Linked DNA regions of Homo sapiens. The protein of the gene in region 2 interacts with the protein of the main gene of each other region in a pairwise test. Each region holds a gene or a part of one and is shown on either strand. Other genes may lie near its edges. The genes, in order: PHF20L1, ELAVL4, TTC33 and ZNF639.

The links.
Region 1: the proteins of ELAVL4 (region 2) and PHF20L1 interact in a two-hybrid assay, tested with the Homo sapiens proteins (one large-scale study listed by BioGRID and IntAct).
Region 3: the proteins of ELAVL4 (region 2) and TTC33 interact in binary tests that used the Homo sapiens proteins (3 or more experiments, as listed by UniProt).
Region 4: the proteins of ELAVL4 (region 2) and ZNF639 interact in binary tests that used the Homo sapiens proteins (3 or more experiments, as listed by UniProt).

The regions. Positions count from the first base shown.
Region 1 is NC_000008.11:132,834,089-132,838,015, reverse strand, and holds part of PHF20L1 (PHD finger protein 20-like protein 1), read right to left. Parts: intron 1,477-3,927; coding exon 1,295-1,476; intron 305-1,294; coding exon 205-304; intron 1-204.
Region 2 is NC_000001.11:50,188,635-50,192,561, reverse strand, and holds part of ELAVL4 (ELAV-like protein 4), read right to left. Parts: intron 1-3,927. UniProt on the Homo sapiens protein: RNA-binding protein that is involved in the post-transcriptional regulation of mRNAs. Plays a role in the regulation of mRNA stability, alternative splicing and translation.
Region 3 is NC_000005.10:40,728,422-40,732,348, forward strand, and holds part of TTC33 (tetratricopeptide repeat protein 33), read right to left. Parts: intron 1,923-3,927; coding exon 1,841-1,922; intron 56-1,840; coding exon 1-55.
Region 4 is NC_000003.12:179,325,925-179,329,851, reverse strand, and holds part of ZNF639 (zinc finger protein 639), read right to left. Parts: intron 2,888-3,927; exon of another isoform or gene 2,508-2,887; intron 2,292-2,507; 5' UTR 2,221-2,291; intron 1,570-2,220; 5' UTR 1,559-1,569; coding exon 1,501-1,558; intron 235-1,500; coding exon 124-234; intron 1-123. UniProt on the Homo sapiens protein: Binds DNA and may function as a transcriptional repressor.

The DNA.
Region 1 (3,927 bases), on a different chromosome or scaffold from region 2:
GTACTATAAGCTAATTGATACATACAAGTTAAGTTCCTATGGCATATAGCATGCTGTTTCATTTGGAGTCACAGTTTCCAAGAACCTATCAATGACATCATGTGAGAACTTGCTGTAGTGGTGGTGAACACAGCTGATACACTCTGGAATCCTGGAGGAGACATAGAGGCATCCTGGCAATCAGCACGGCACAGAAAGCCTTACCTGGTGGGTCCCGGCAGATATAGCAGATGTACTGCTCTGGAATGCTCTCCTCCAGCAGCCCCATGCACACGCTGTGTTGCCAACACAAGCACTCTTCACACTGCAGAAAACAGAGGAGTATTACAGTCACCCGATCCTCACTAGGAATAAGCTAGGAATAAGGATACATGCCCTTTCTTTGAATTGGCTGGCTTGGCTTCTTACTGCCACTATCAGTTTCATACTTATTTGACACAACAAAATCAAGCCATGACTTAAGATGAATTTTATCTTTGAAATGGTCAACTACTTCACGAACTTTCTTTTGTTGCACCTATTAGAATATGCTTTGATCAAGTACTTAAGTCATAATTTCTCTAATTTAATTCTCACTGATATTTAGGCAATCATATCATAAAACTCTTAAAATAGTTTATTAAAATGCGGAAATTAGGGGAAAAAAAAGTTGGTAGCAGTGTCTATACCAATGATCTCTTAAAGTACTACTTCTGTGGTGAAGTTATAAATTCATAGTTCCCTCCATAAAACCACAGAAAAATGGGAGGAAAAAAGATTACTCTTTCTTCATGCTCTCAACTAACATCTCCAAATCTTCTGGCATCACAAAATTTGGGTTATGCTTTCCTTTTATCTTAAAGATATCTTTCCTACAAGAAGAAGTTGTTAACTCCTGCAACAAAATTTTTCCTTTAAGAATACTGGACATTTTTATGTTTTAATCACTGACAAGTGAAGGGTGACTATAAATTATTATTATAATAATTCACATGAATGCAGATGAGGAAGAGAAAGGTTGCTGTAGCCTGCCCTTTCGTGTGAGGGTTTACCACCCTAATCACTCTAAAGAGTTTCAGTTTGAAGGCACTGAACTACATACCCTAGAAAAGGAAGAGAGATGCTAAAATAAGAACATTGTCTACTTTACTTAATGAGGAAATCTCCTAATCATTACTATGGGTATTTTCCACACAGTAAGTTAGAAACCACTATCTTCAGTAGTACAGTCAGTAAAGAAATAAAACACCGTGATGCATTTGCTGAGCACCTGAAACAACTAACTCATTATAGGGAAGAGAGGTTAACCAATTACCTGGATCATGAAGCCATTCTCCTCATCCATCTCACAAATACATCGCACAATTTCATTAAGAGCATCATCCTCATCCTGAGATTCCTCAAAATTGGTTGAATCAAAGTCCTGATTGTATTCATCCCCACTCAGAAGCAAACTCTCCGTTGAAGAATCATCTAGGAAGTCTACATCTGATAAGTCTAGAATATATACAAAAAGTATACTTAGAACAACTTTTCTATTTTCATGTTATTTTTCATAAAGAAAGGAGCTATGAGAAGTGAACATAAGCTATTAAACATTTTAAAAAGGGGGAGCAAACAAATAAGAATACTGTACTGTACTTGTCTCTGGACATGGAAACAAAAGATTTTTGAAGCTTAGGTAATTATGACTGCTTTATATCTTATAGTATACACTATTATAAGTAACTCAAAGTGTCTTTTAGACTTCATGCTTACAGAATTTATGGCTAAGGCTGATGTCAATAAATTTGCACAGTTTCCATACACTTTCACAAACATTATCCCTTCTGACCCTCATAAAAACCCTGTGTTGTCCCCTTGTGATTTCATAGTATCAGTGTGACACCACTGTCCGTGGACCTGGGGACAGGTGTGTGTAGTAAGCCCCCATTAGCCAGCACAAGCTGGCTCTAGCACACCACTGATTCTTCATTCTTTTTCTTCTTTCTTTTTTGGATTAATAAAGTGCTTTTTGAAAAATCACTTAAAAAAAAAAACTCTGAATTGTAAAGAGGACGGGTTTTATTATTCATACTATAAACAACTTCAGAGAGGTAAAGGAGCTTGCCTAGGGTCTAAAATCAACAATAGCATTATTGACAGTATCAGCAGCATCAACTACTATAGCACTTAGTAAGCACACAGTGCTATATTAAGCACTTTAAACACAGGATATATAACTTGCTTGAGAAACGCAGCCATGGAGTGGGAAAACCAACTGAATACCAGGAATGCCTGATTCTCAAGCCTGTGTTCTTAATGACTTTACCAGTATTTCTTAAAACCGGAACCGTGAGTTCCCCAAGGGATTTTTAAAATGTATTAATTTCGTCTTGGTAAAAATATATTTTTAGATTAAGCATATCCTAGAAACAAGACTATATGGATGACTACTACATACAACTCAATTTACATGTCAGGTTTTAGGCGTGTGTGTATAATAGTGACAATGCCAAAGCCTACCATTTTGCTCAGGTTACTGAGGAAAAGAAAATTGAGACAGACACGGGGGAATCTTTATTTATAACAATGGAAAGTAAATGATGATGGAACACTAAAATTTTTGCAGTAGTTTGGATGGAGAAATGTTAGGAAAACTGAGTCATCATGAGAAACAGAACATCGTATAATGCTGTGTGAGCTCCTGACAGAGGCTAATCAGCAGAGCACCTTCCTACCTCACATCCTATCCCCTAGCCACATTCTGAGTTATCTCTTCACTTGCTTATCATCTGTCTTCTCTTACTAGAATATCAGAATCCATGACAGCAAGAACTTTGCATTGTTGAATGCTACATCCCCAGTTATTAGAATGAGGCCTGATATATAATATAGCCACTCCAGAATGTTTGTAGAAGAACTAAGGAGAGAGTCAGAGAGAGAATATTTTCTTTTCAGACTTAATCAGATGGGACCGAAGTTGAACAGATTTGAACTTTAAAAATTCACGCTATTTATACTCTACATTTTTCACATGATTTAGTGTTTCCTCTATCAGCTTCTAATCTTGCTTACTTTTTTCTTCATTCAATGTTTTTGAATGTTTTGTTGTTGATTAATGTTTTATAGAAAAATAAAGTTTTCTTCTCTTTGAAGTCACAGGGACATACGGAAGGAAGGTCAGCAGAAATAGATAATAAAGAAATATCTGAAAATATTCATGGAGCTAGTAAATCAACTAGATATGGAAAATCTAGTATGAACAGTATAACTTGTTTTAAAAGAACCTAAAGAGGAAAATTTCACCCATCCATAATCTTGCTGGCTTAAATCCAAATTTTCTTTTGGGCTTTCTCAAGTTCATTGGAATGTGGGTAAAACAGTTTCAAACACTGTTGCAGCATATAAACAGTATTAAATGGGCCGGGCACAGCGGCTCACACCTCTAGTCCCAGCACTTTGGGAGGCCGTGGTGAGAGGATCACTTTAAGTTAGGAGTTTGAAACCAGCCTGTACAACAAAGCAAGCCCTCATCTCTACAAAAGCAAAAATAATTTGCTAGGCATGATGACCTGTGCTGGTAGTCTTAGCTACTCAGGAGGCTGAGGCAAGAGGATTGCTTGAGCCAAGGAGTTTGAGGCTGCAATGAACTACGATCACACCAGTATTTCAGCCTAGGCAACAGAGCAAGATCTTGCCTCAATAAATAAATAAATAAAAATTAATTTGAAATTATATCATTGAAAGGAATTAGTGTATCTCACATATACTTGCATGGCAAAGATTACCAGTTTTATGGTGTTAGCAAGCAAATTTATCATATTCTCCACAAATCTAGTTTGAATAACTCCCAAGCATTAAACTTATGCTTAGCTGAGTTTTGGAAGTTGAGTAAAATGGATGACAGAGCTGAAAGTTATGTAAGAAGCAAATAAAAGTTCCCCCTTACGCTTGAATAGCCACCTA
Region 2 (3,927 bases):
TGTGTGTGTGTGTGTGTGTGTGTGTGTGTGTGTGTGTGTGTGCGTGCACACAAAAGCATGTGTGCAAAAGGAATTGAACACATTAAACCAGACCTTTGACATTAAGACCTAAACCTCCAGCAGTAATGTGGACCCTGCTTCTGTGACCTTCAGGGGAGAGAATGGGTCTAGCAAAGAAGATGAAGGATGAGCAGAACCCTCATCCATGGCACTCTCCCCCTTTCCATGACAGACATGCCAGGTCCCTTTATGGGTTCCATGCCTAAAAATAGATGTTGACTCAACAGATAAAATGATGTGAGTGACTAATCTGCCTCCCTGGCCTCCTCCTGCTGATGGAGTGAGGCAGCTGCCTTCAGTATCTCCATCTTCTAGAAACTCACGGGTGGGCTGGGAGGCCTCTGTGGGCTCCTTCTCAGCACATGGCTGAGATGTAGAGGGGCCTTTATATAGGGGGTCCCAGTGTGTGCATTTGCAGTGTGGGCTGAAGGACTAAGAACCCCATGTGACTGTCTGGACAGGGCTTCACTCCACAGAAGGTTCTCCCACCCCTGTTCTTTAAGGGACAAAGTGTGTCAATAGCAGAACTATTTTTTGAGTAAGAGGAAGAAGTGGAAGAAGGAAATAAAAACATCATAGTGATATGCCCATGGCAATGAGGGTCACCCTTGTTTCACCTTGCCAATTACTGACAAATTAATTATCCGAATGACATTTGTGCTCCCTCAAAACACAACCTACCACCTTTATACCTTTGCTCATACAGACATTTTTTTTATACCTACTTCCTCAAGTCCAAATCCTACTCCTCTTCAGGGCTCAGATCAAATGACATCTTCTCTAGGCAGCTTTCTCTAATCTCACCTTCTCCTAAAAATCTCCCCAGCAGTGTTCTCAATGAACCATGGTACTTAACCCGTTTCAACCTTAACTGACCACCTCTCCATCTAGGCTGATGATCTCTTTAGGTTGTAGGTCTTGTGTGTGTGTGTGTCCTATTCAACTCTGTGACTCTAGCTCCCAGCACATAGCCTGATACCTATAAAGTGTTCAACACCTACTGAAAAAATGAATAAACACCCACAGCTCATGAGAAATGATGTTGATATTATTGGCTCTTTGGAGTTAACTGTAACTCCAGTAAGGTGGACCACTGAGAGTCAGGCACCCAGAATCCCAGCTGTGTTTCTCCACCAAGCTAAGAGCTAAGGGACATATTTCCCATTTTCCAATGCCTGGGGCTGGAAGGACTGAAAGAAGATTGTTCTAGGACTAGACCTCACATAGAGGCCTTCTCTTAGCAAATATTTCCTGAGGATCTACTATGAGCCAGGTACAGTGGTATGTGTTGGCAACACAGCAAGAACAAGGCATAGTCTCTTGCTGTAAAGGAACTCCAAGTCCAAAGAGGGCAACAGACAACACATAAGAGGCACTCAATAAAATGTGTTGAACAAAAGAATGGATGAGTAAACATACAGACCAATTATCACAGTGCCACAAGATGTGTGTGTTATGCCAGGGATACATATGAGTGTGACTAAAACACAGAGGAGGGAGAGATTAATCAAAGGTTAAAAGGGCCGGGAAGGAGACACAGCTGAGCTGAGACTGGTGGTGAGAAAGGTGGTGGTGGAGTCAGGTAATGGTGGCCTGATAATAGCCTTCCTCTGTCACGAGGACAAATGAGGTGATGAAGATCAAGGGCTTAGCACAGTACCTGGCACCCAATAAATGCATAATGGATAGTCATGACCTTAACTCCCATTAGTTCTGCACAGCCAGAGCTAGGGTACAGAGGGAACAGGGTGAACCCTGCCAGGGAAGAGGAGCTGGCACTTGAAAGTTGGTGACACAACAAAAACCATTTCCCCAAAAGTTGATTCCAACATAGGTAGAATCTCAGCTAGGGAGAATTACTGCAACACATCTCCAGAGACAGACCCTAAATCCCCAAAGGCAGCAACAAATCCCAAAGGTGAACAGCACATCAATCATTCTCTACCAAGTCTAATTCCTGTTTAGTATTTCTCACCTATATGGAACCTTAAGTCTATTGTTCTCTCAGTTTCCTGTCCATGAAACCTGTGGCGTATGGATAAACAAAAATGACAGAAAAAAGATCTTCCTGCATTGAATATCCAAATGTTCATCCTAGTACCTAAAATTTTCAACTTTCCATATACATGTATTAAATTCTAACTGAATGACTACAGTGGTCAGGCCCTTGGTTAGGCTGAAAGATTTCCAAAAAATTGCCAATTTTCAGGGTCAGCATTGATGGCATATTAATGCCCCTGGGCCAGTGGCCTGGAGTCACAGGGCTTCCAACACTGGAGCCAGCGCCCTGGAGAACCCCCCTTGCCTCAGTCAGGATCCTGTTTGCTTCATTCATCCAGAATCTCTGAAGACAAGACTGGCATCTCTAGGCCAGCACTGACCTCCTTCTGGAACTCAGAAAGGGCTGGGAGTGAAGAAGCCACTCCTCTCTCTGGGTAGGGGTGGCTCAAAGCCAGGTGACTGTAAGCAGCTGACTTTACAGATGATCTCTATGGAAGATCTGAAGTCCCTCCAAGCTCCTCAGCTCTCCCCATCCCTGGTGCTCACAGTCTTCCCATCCTCCACCAGAAGGATGCTATAGCATCATGCTTATGATCCCTGACTGTGGGTCAGCTCCAGTACTCACTAGCTGCATGACCTTAGGCAAGTAATTTGATCTTGATAAGTCTCAACATCTTTGCTCGTAAAAAGGGGGTCAATTATCCTTTGATGGGTTATTGTAAGAACTGAGTTGATATATTTGTCTAGCACATACCTAGAACTTAGTAGATACTTACACATATTATTATGTGATGAGTCATACAGGCTTTTGTGGGCCAGCCTGGGAATCTAGCTCCCATTGGGACATACCCTCCAATTTCACCGGAAAAAAACCCCCAAAAAACAAACAAAAAAAACATGTGGAACACTACCAGGGAATGCCTGTAGAGGCACTGCCCTCCTCTGCCACCCTGGTGGGGTCTGGACCATCTTTTACCACTTTACTGACATGAATGTCCTCTAACACATTTCCACAGATCCCACTGCTTTATGCCGACAAAGTACTTTCCACTTTCCAAAGTGACTTCCCAATTCTGCTCTCAGCAAGTCTCACCAAGGTGGGTAAAGCAGGCGTTGTCATTCATCACAGATGGGGCATCAGGACGAGGGCTGAGGGCTGCCTCTTCCCATGCAGCACCCACAACTCCCTTTACCTGTTCATACACAGGGCTTGGCCTGGGCAGGGTGGGAAGAACAGCATGACCTGAGGAAGAATGTTCCCTGAATCATCCAGCAATACCTCACTCCTTGTCTGTCCTCCATAATACAGAAAAGGGAGAGGACATGGAAAACACGATAAAGGCATGTTGGGTGCAATGAGGAGGATAAAATGAGAGGGAAAAGGCATCCTTTTTAGCCCCAGAAAATTGCTCCTTTAGAAAAACACTGGCATTAGAAGATGGGAGTTCATTCATTCCTCCCCTTCCTAAACATCTACTATGTGCCAGGCCCTGGGATGGGTGTTGGGAATGTCTCTGCTTCACGAATCCCAGTCTGGAAAGGAAAGTAAACAAATGAAGCATGCAATACAGAGGGCTGCTTCCAACAGGGAGATACTCATTTCCCACTCCCAGTGTTTCCTTCCATGTGGAGAGAACCCCCTGCAGCAACAGACCAGGCCTATTGCTATCCCTTCATCCACTCTTCCCCAGGGAAAAGAAGTGACTCCTCTGAATGGAGGCTTCAATAAAAGAAATGGGCATGTGAGGCTCAAATGCTGCCTGCTTCTTCCCTTCTGGGAGCCAGACGCCAGCTGGAAGCACACATTCTGTTCCAGGCTCTCAGTCTTATGGGGGCAGGCTCTGCTCTCGGCCTGTGGGGTCTAGA
Region 3 (3,927 bases), on a different chromosome or scaffold from region 2:
CGGCCATTTCTGCTGCATGTACTGCTGGGAACATTTCATGAAGAGACATTAGCACCTATAGGCAAAAAAAGACCAAAAAATCTGTCAGTAATATTCATAAACTAGCAACTACATAAAAAACCCTTTTCATTTTTTAAGATATATTTTTAGTCCAGTAAAAATAGCATTTCGGTGATTTTTACCCCTTACTCTGCCATTCAGGGTAAGAAATTATAGTTCTCTTTTCACCCCTTATATAACTATGAAAATGTAAACGATTCCCTTTCCAGTTATTGAATCTTATGTCCATCTGGTCAAAACCAAGTGGTCATATCCTAACTATGGTGGCTCAGAGGTATTTTGAACTCCCAATTCCACTTCCATTTATTCTATTTACAATGTGGTTTTCAGGGAACCCCAGGTATTGCCATTAAACTAGGTGAATTAATTTGTTCAACCAGCCATCCCGTCCCTAATGAACATCTTTATGTTATAAAAAGTATTTAAAACATTCCCTAGGCCTTCTCACTACTGGGCATTTCAAACCATACATACTAGGAAGGTAGGGTTAGGGTTAGGGTTAGGGTTAGGGAGAGTTAGGGTTACCAGAGAGTTCTAGTACCCTCCACTGTGGTCTGTGGGAAGAGGCTGGATTTTATCTATAATCTTTAGGACCATTAACACTTTAAAAGATTTGTGATACAAACATTATTATCAGGTTCCAAATTAAACAAGTCTTCATAAAGCTTGCCACAAACCTGTCATTCATATATACATATTTAAGATTGAAAAAGGAATACAAATGAAGGTCCTCATATCACTTGATTCAGATGACATAATTTATTTGGGTTTTTCCTGGATAAACTAAAGTCAAAGGTGACAAATGTGTGTCCTATATTTGAGATCACGATTTGAAAAATATTTGTTAGGTGTGCAGATTAAGGCTGAATTGCAACAATTCCCTGCCAAAAATATGTTTAATGCTCTGTGTGAGACTTTTAAAATCACTTGGATAACCTATTCAAGTGCTCAAAGGTTTTCTTTACAGACTTTCCTACAAAATATTAGAAACATGTTTTTAAAGTACAAATGTTATTTTTAAGCTATTAATAAAATTGCATCTATGCTGACCTTTTGCTAAGGACTAAGCCATTTTTAGAAATATCTCATCTAGAACCCAATCCATCCTCATTTTTAAGAAAACTGAACTATTTTGCTAAGTCTACTATATTTAATCACAAGGAAAGCGTATGTTTTTCATCTAAGAGCTCAACAGTGACTTTTTATTTATTTTTTATTTACTTATTTATTTTTTTGAGATGGAGTCTCGCTGTGTCACCCAGGCTGGAGTGCAGTGGCACTATCTCAGCTCACTGCAACCTCCGCCTCCCACGTTCAAGTGGTCCTCCTGCCTCAGCCTCTCAAGTAGCTGGGACTACAGGCATGTGCCACCACGCCCAGCTAATATTTGTATTTTTAGTAGAGGCAAGGTTTCACCATGTTGGTCAGGGTGGTCTCGAACTTCTGACCTCAAGTGATCCACCCACCTCGGCCTCCCAAATTGCTGGGATTACAGACGTGAGCCATGGCACCTGCCCACCAGTGACTTTAAAAGATAGCCACCGATTCCTATCTTACAATAGTTAGGCTAAAATAACAGTTAACTTCATTGTAAAGGCAAATGAATTTCCAGTTTTATGCATAAGACAGAACCATAAATAATGGTGAAATATTTTTTCCCAAAGAAACCGTATTTGTAAAAGAAAATGGGAGAAAATGCTATTTTGCTTCATCATTGCTCACTCACCGAACAAACATAGCACAATTTCATAAGGAAAGTGAAATTCTTCATAATTATTACCTGTGATTTCATCTCGTATAGGGTAGCATCATTTGGAGTTAACTGTAGTGCTTCATCCCACTTCTGAATTGCCTCCCGATATCTGTGGTTGTTAAAGTTATATCAATGCCATATTTTCAATATGCTTTTTTGGACTTTCAAAAAAAAATTTTTATTGTAGTAAAATATAAAATTTACCATCTTAACCATTTAAGTGTACAGTTCAGAGGCATTAAGTAGCATTAAGTACATATAGTTCATTCACCTTTGTGTGCAACCACCACCACCATTCATCTCCAGAACTTTTTCATCTTCCCAAACTGAAACTCCATACCCATTAAACAATAACTCCTCATTGCCCCCTCCTCCACCCCCGGGCAAACACCATTCTACTCTTAGACTGCTTTCAGGAGGAGCAGTCATGTACTTTCAGTTCAACAGTTTTTTGGACTACTTTCTAGTCCATGAAATATATGTAAAAATCCAAAATAAAGGATTAGCAAATTAAGTCCAGCAACTTACTAAAGTACAAAATCCACATGATCATGTAGTGTATGCTCAGAAAAACTTAGAAATGGGTTCATATGTAACAGATAAGGGAGAAAAAAGTACATGCCACTAAACAATACTTAGTATAATTTAACACCCATTTCTGATTATTTATAATAATAATAAAAGTATATACAACATTAAATAAATTTAGTACTGTGGTGCCATCATCTACTAAGCTTTAATGATATAACCTCTAAAAGCAGTAACTATATCACCTAAAAAGAAAGTACTTGCACTTCTTTAGGCATATTGTGGGTGATTTCAAGCCTCTCTAAACAATATTTCCAAATGTTATTGTAGATGTGACAGGAAAAACTTTGGAAATTAATTTATTGATGTATTCCTTCATAACAATCCTTCCACTCACAATTTTCTAACAAAGGTAGCAGTAATAAATTCTGCAAGACTTAATAGTAGCAAATGTCTTTCCTCCAGCATTAGAAGGAAAAGGTTGGACTGTTTGTCCAATCTTTTTTCTACCACTCCCTACACATACCTGTGCTCCACTCAGCAGGGTTTTTATAGTCCCTACCCACATATCATGCCTTTGTTAGTATGGATCCCCTGCTACACATACACACACACACATCTGTATTAGTTCACTCTCACGCTGCAATAAAGAACTGCCCAAGACTAGGAAATTTATAAAGGAAAGAGGTTTAATTGACTCAGTACCACAGGGCTGGGGAGGCCTCAGGAAACTTACAAGGATGGCAGAAGGGGAAGCAAACACATCCTTCTTCACATGGAGGCACGAGAGAGAAATGAGCGCTGAGCAAACAGGGAAGCCCCTTATAAATCCATAAGATCTCGTGAGAACTCAGTGTCATGAGACCAGCATGGCAGAAACTGCCGCCATAATTCAATTATCTCCACCTGGTCCCATCCTTGACACGGGGATTATTACAATTCAAGGTGAGATTTGGGTGGGGACACAGAGCCAAACCATATCACATATCTAAGATTGCCTTCCTACTCCTCTTCATCTATTCAAAGGCTCCTCCTCTAAGACCAAGTTAAAATGCTCCGTTCTTCATGAAGACCTCCTCCAGTGGCTCTAGCCCACTAACTATGAGTACCACTTCAGACCACATAGCAACACTTATATTTCCAAAGCATTTTATGTTTTACAAAGCACTTTCAATACAATTATTTAACATACAATTATTTTCCCAAAAAGTTAATTCACTTACTACTCAAAGTAAGTGAATATAAATTTGGTGTTATTTGCTTTTTTAAAAATTATTTTGAGAGACAGAGTCTTGCTCCGTTGCACTGGCATGATCACAGCTCATTGCAGCCTTGAACTCTTGGGCTCAAGGGCCTCCCACCTCAGCCTACTGAGTAGCTAGGACTACAGGCATATGCCACTATGGCCAGCTAATTTTTTTATTTTTTTATTTTTGTAGAGACAGGGTCTCACTATGTTGCTCAGGCTGGTCTCAAACTTCTGGCCTCAAGCAATCCTCCTGCCTTGGCCTCCACAAGTGCTGAGATTACAGGGGTGAGCCACCATGCCTAGCCTCAAGTTTGGCATTACTTGTTCTCACTTTATT
Region 4 (3,927 bases), on a different chromosome or scaffold from region 2:
ACAAATTTCAAAGACTTGTCTGTTTTGAAATCATCAATCCACATTTTACCCACATTTTCAAGTAAGGAATAAAAAATGTAAAAGCAGTTTAAAGAAACATATTTTCGAAAATATTAGATATACCTTTGTTGTCAAAATATTTTAAATCTGGCTGTCTCATAGAACAGACACTGTAACAATGATCAGAGAAAATTCCATTGAATCCATCTGCAATTCTGCTTATTCCAGAGGAATCTGAACATAAAATGAAAAATATTTCAAGTACAGTAAACATACATATTTAATGAGAAACTTCCCGTTATCTAACTTATACAAATGTTCTTAATGTTAATTATAGTATCTGTAATGAAAATATTATACATTTTCAACTTTTAAAGCTTTTATATTTCAGATCCAATATTGACATAGGACTTTGAAAGAACCACAAATTACATACTCTAAAACATAACAACTTTGAAATATACAAGGATACATTTGTTTTATACTCAGAATCACACAAAATAAAAATATATGATAAACACTGTATTAACTGCACAAAACAGTGAAATAAACACCAGGAAGGTGTGCCATGTCATGCAGAGAAAGGTTGTTACATAGGGGAAATGGTAAGGACCACTTAGGGCTTCTGAATATAGTCATTTCAAGTGTTGTCTAGGAAGGGCCAGTAAGCAGTATACTAGGGTTAATTTCTTCAGATATGAAGAATGTGTAGGCTGGGTAGACTAATAGGTAAGACTGAGATGGTCCCAAGTAAATGTATGCGAGGTGTATTAGAGATGGCCACAAAGACCCCTTTTCTTATACTGCCAACACAGCAGAGCCAACCTCAATGAAAGGATCTAAAATTACACAGTCATCCAGCCTGGGCAGCATGGTGAAACCCCATCTCTACTTTAACACTACAAAAAATTAGCCAGGTGTGGCGGTACACGCCTGTAATCCCAGCTACTTGGGAGGCTGAGGCAGGAGAATCACTTGAACCCAGAAAGCAGAGGTTGCAGTGAGCTGACATCACACCATGGCACTCCAGCCTGGGCTAGAGAGTGAGACTCTGTCTCAAAAAAAAAAAAAAAAAAATTACACATTCAGCATGAAAGTTTACATTTCCTAAAGTAATAAAGAGGATAAAGTCTTTTTTCCCCAATAATGTAAAATATTTTCTACCAAGGTTGTCATTATTGGGTCTTAAGCACAGCTTAGGTATCAGACATGCAAATCCCAATTATGTTATATAAGTAAATAACCTTGGCTATCTAATTTTAAATATTTATAACCCATAGAGCTGTGAGGAATAATATAATGTCTGTAAAGTTCTTATGTGTGCCTAGCACATGGTAGACAATAAGGAATATATATTCAGATAATGTATTTAAACCGTTGTTTTACCTAAATATTGACCCAGATATTTAAGTCTTATCTGATCACTTAGGAGAAAATGGATGAGAATATAATTTTGTGGGAATTAATCCATACCCAACTTTAAAATAATTATACACTGACCTGAATAACGAGAAGGGTGTAGAGTCTTCCTTTTTCTTTTTTTAGGATACTCATTCATATCTTTTCAATCTAAAAAACGAGAAAAAATTAACAAATATGTCACAAATAACAACTGTTAATGACGTTATAAAAATTCTAACTGAAGAATTTATTGGCAATATGAAATATGTGAGCCACCTGAAAATCTATGGTATAAGAAAAGTGTTAAATGATGCCTCTGTTTGTATTTCAGATTGTTTTCCAGTCAGGTTTCAAGGCAGAAACTGATTTCTGTTTTCTTTCTTACGGAGGTTAAAAAATTCTTTTTCAAATGTTGATATAAATTGTGAGAACTGGATAATTACAATAAACCACATGTTTAAGTCATTTTATTTTGTGTATATATAAAAAAAGAAACACTGTGCCTATGGCACCATACTAGGAGTTTTATAGGCACATTTCCTACCATTGGAAGTATTTTTAGGTAGTTTTCAAGCTAAAGGCGGAGACATTTCCTTTAAAAAAATATTGTCACAAATATGTATCGGCCTCCTGGCTTCCAGAAAAAAGTACTCATCACACAGATCAGAATATAAATAATTTTCAAGAAAAAAATCATTTTCCTATTTATGAGGTCACATTCAACGTTCCACTGAGAACACAACACATGCAGCAACCACTATCCAATTAAATTCTCATTAACTGTTACAAAATTAATTAGTTTCAATACAGTCCACTTACTTGGTATAATTCTTACTACTGGAGTGAGGAAAAATGAATTACAATAAGTTTCTGTAGACAGTAAAAAATGCCTGTAAGTAAAACATGAAAGAAGTTATTAAGCAAAAATACAGCTCATTTCTGGTACTGAATAATACAATGGCACCAGATCTTTAATCAATTGGAAAGTTATACAGAACTAATTAAGATATATTATTTTGAAAACAATGTACTACATACTAAAAACTGTATATCTTGATAAATATGTGATTATATGCAAATTTCCACATTTCTTTGAAATGATTTACCTTCTATAGTTCTTTTTTTTTGAGACAGTCTCATGCCTGACCTATAGTTAAATCTTTTGACACCAAAATAGGACTATGAATCTGAATTAATTTATTCATCCATAAGGAAAGCAAGCATAATGAAAGCAAACCAAATTATAAACTTTTTGTTTTTGAGACCGAGTTTTGCTCTTGTTACCCAGGCTGGAGTGCAATGGCGCGATCTCAGCTCACTGCAACCTCTGCCTCCTGGGTTAAAGCGATTCTCCTGCCTCAGCCTCCCAAGTAGCTGGGATTACAGGCATGTGGCACCACACCGGGCTAATTTTTCTATTTTTAGCAGAGACGGGGTTTCACCATGTTGGCCAGGCTGGTCTCAAACTCCTGACCTCAGGTGATCCACCCACCTGGGCCTCCCAAAGTGCTGGGATTACAGGCGTGAGTCACCTTGCCTGGCCCAAATTATAAACTTTAAACTGTTACAGCCCTTATAGATTATTTATTTAAGAAATAAAAGATCGAGACCAGCCTGGCCAATATGGTGAAATCCCGTCTCTGCTAAAAATACAAAAATCAGCCGGGTGTGATGGTGCGCACCTGCAATCCCAGTTACTCAAGAGGCTGAGGCAGGAGAATGGCTTGAACCTGGGAGGCGGAGGGCTACAGTGAGCTGACATCGTGCCACTGCACTCCAGCCTGGGCAACAGAGCAAGACTCTCTCTCAAAAACAAAAAATCAAAACAAAACAAAAAAAGAAAAAAGTAAAAGTGATAATAATAATTTACTGACCACCAATTATGTACCAGGCTGTGAACATACTTTATCTCATTTAATCCTATGTAATCGTATGAGATGCAAAATTCACATCACCCTCTCAAAATTATAGTTCCTGTTATTGAGGAAACTGAGGCACAGTAAAGTCAAAGCTAGATACTCAGTAAATGCTGGGGTTGGGATTTGAATAAAGGTTTACCCAACTTTATTTATTAATCTATTTATTTATTTGAAACGGAGTCTTGCTCTGTCACCCAGGCTGGAGTGCAGTGGCACGATCTTGGCTCATTGCAACCTCTGCCTCCCCAGCTCAAGCGATTCTCCTGCTTCAGCCTCCTGAGTGGCCGGGATTACGGGCGCCCGCCAGCAGGAGGCTGGGATTACAGGTACCCGCCAGCACACCCAGCTAATTTTTGTATTTTTAGTAGAGACGGGGGTTTACTATGTTAGCCAGGCTGGTCTTGAACTCCTGACCTCAAGTGATCCGCCCACCTCAGCCTCCCAAAGTGCTGGGATTACAGGCACGAGGCACCGCGCCCGGCCTATAATGCTCTTAACACCAAGGTGATACACATGACAGGTGTTCTAGCTGAGGTGCACATACTATTTTTGCTGCTTCACTAAGTTCTGGGTATATCAGCACTGAAGTGATATAATACAGCAGGGA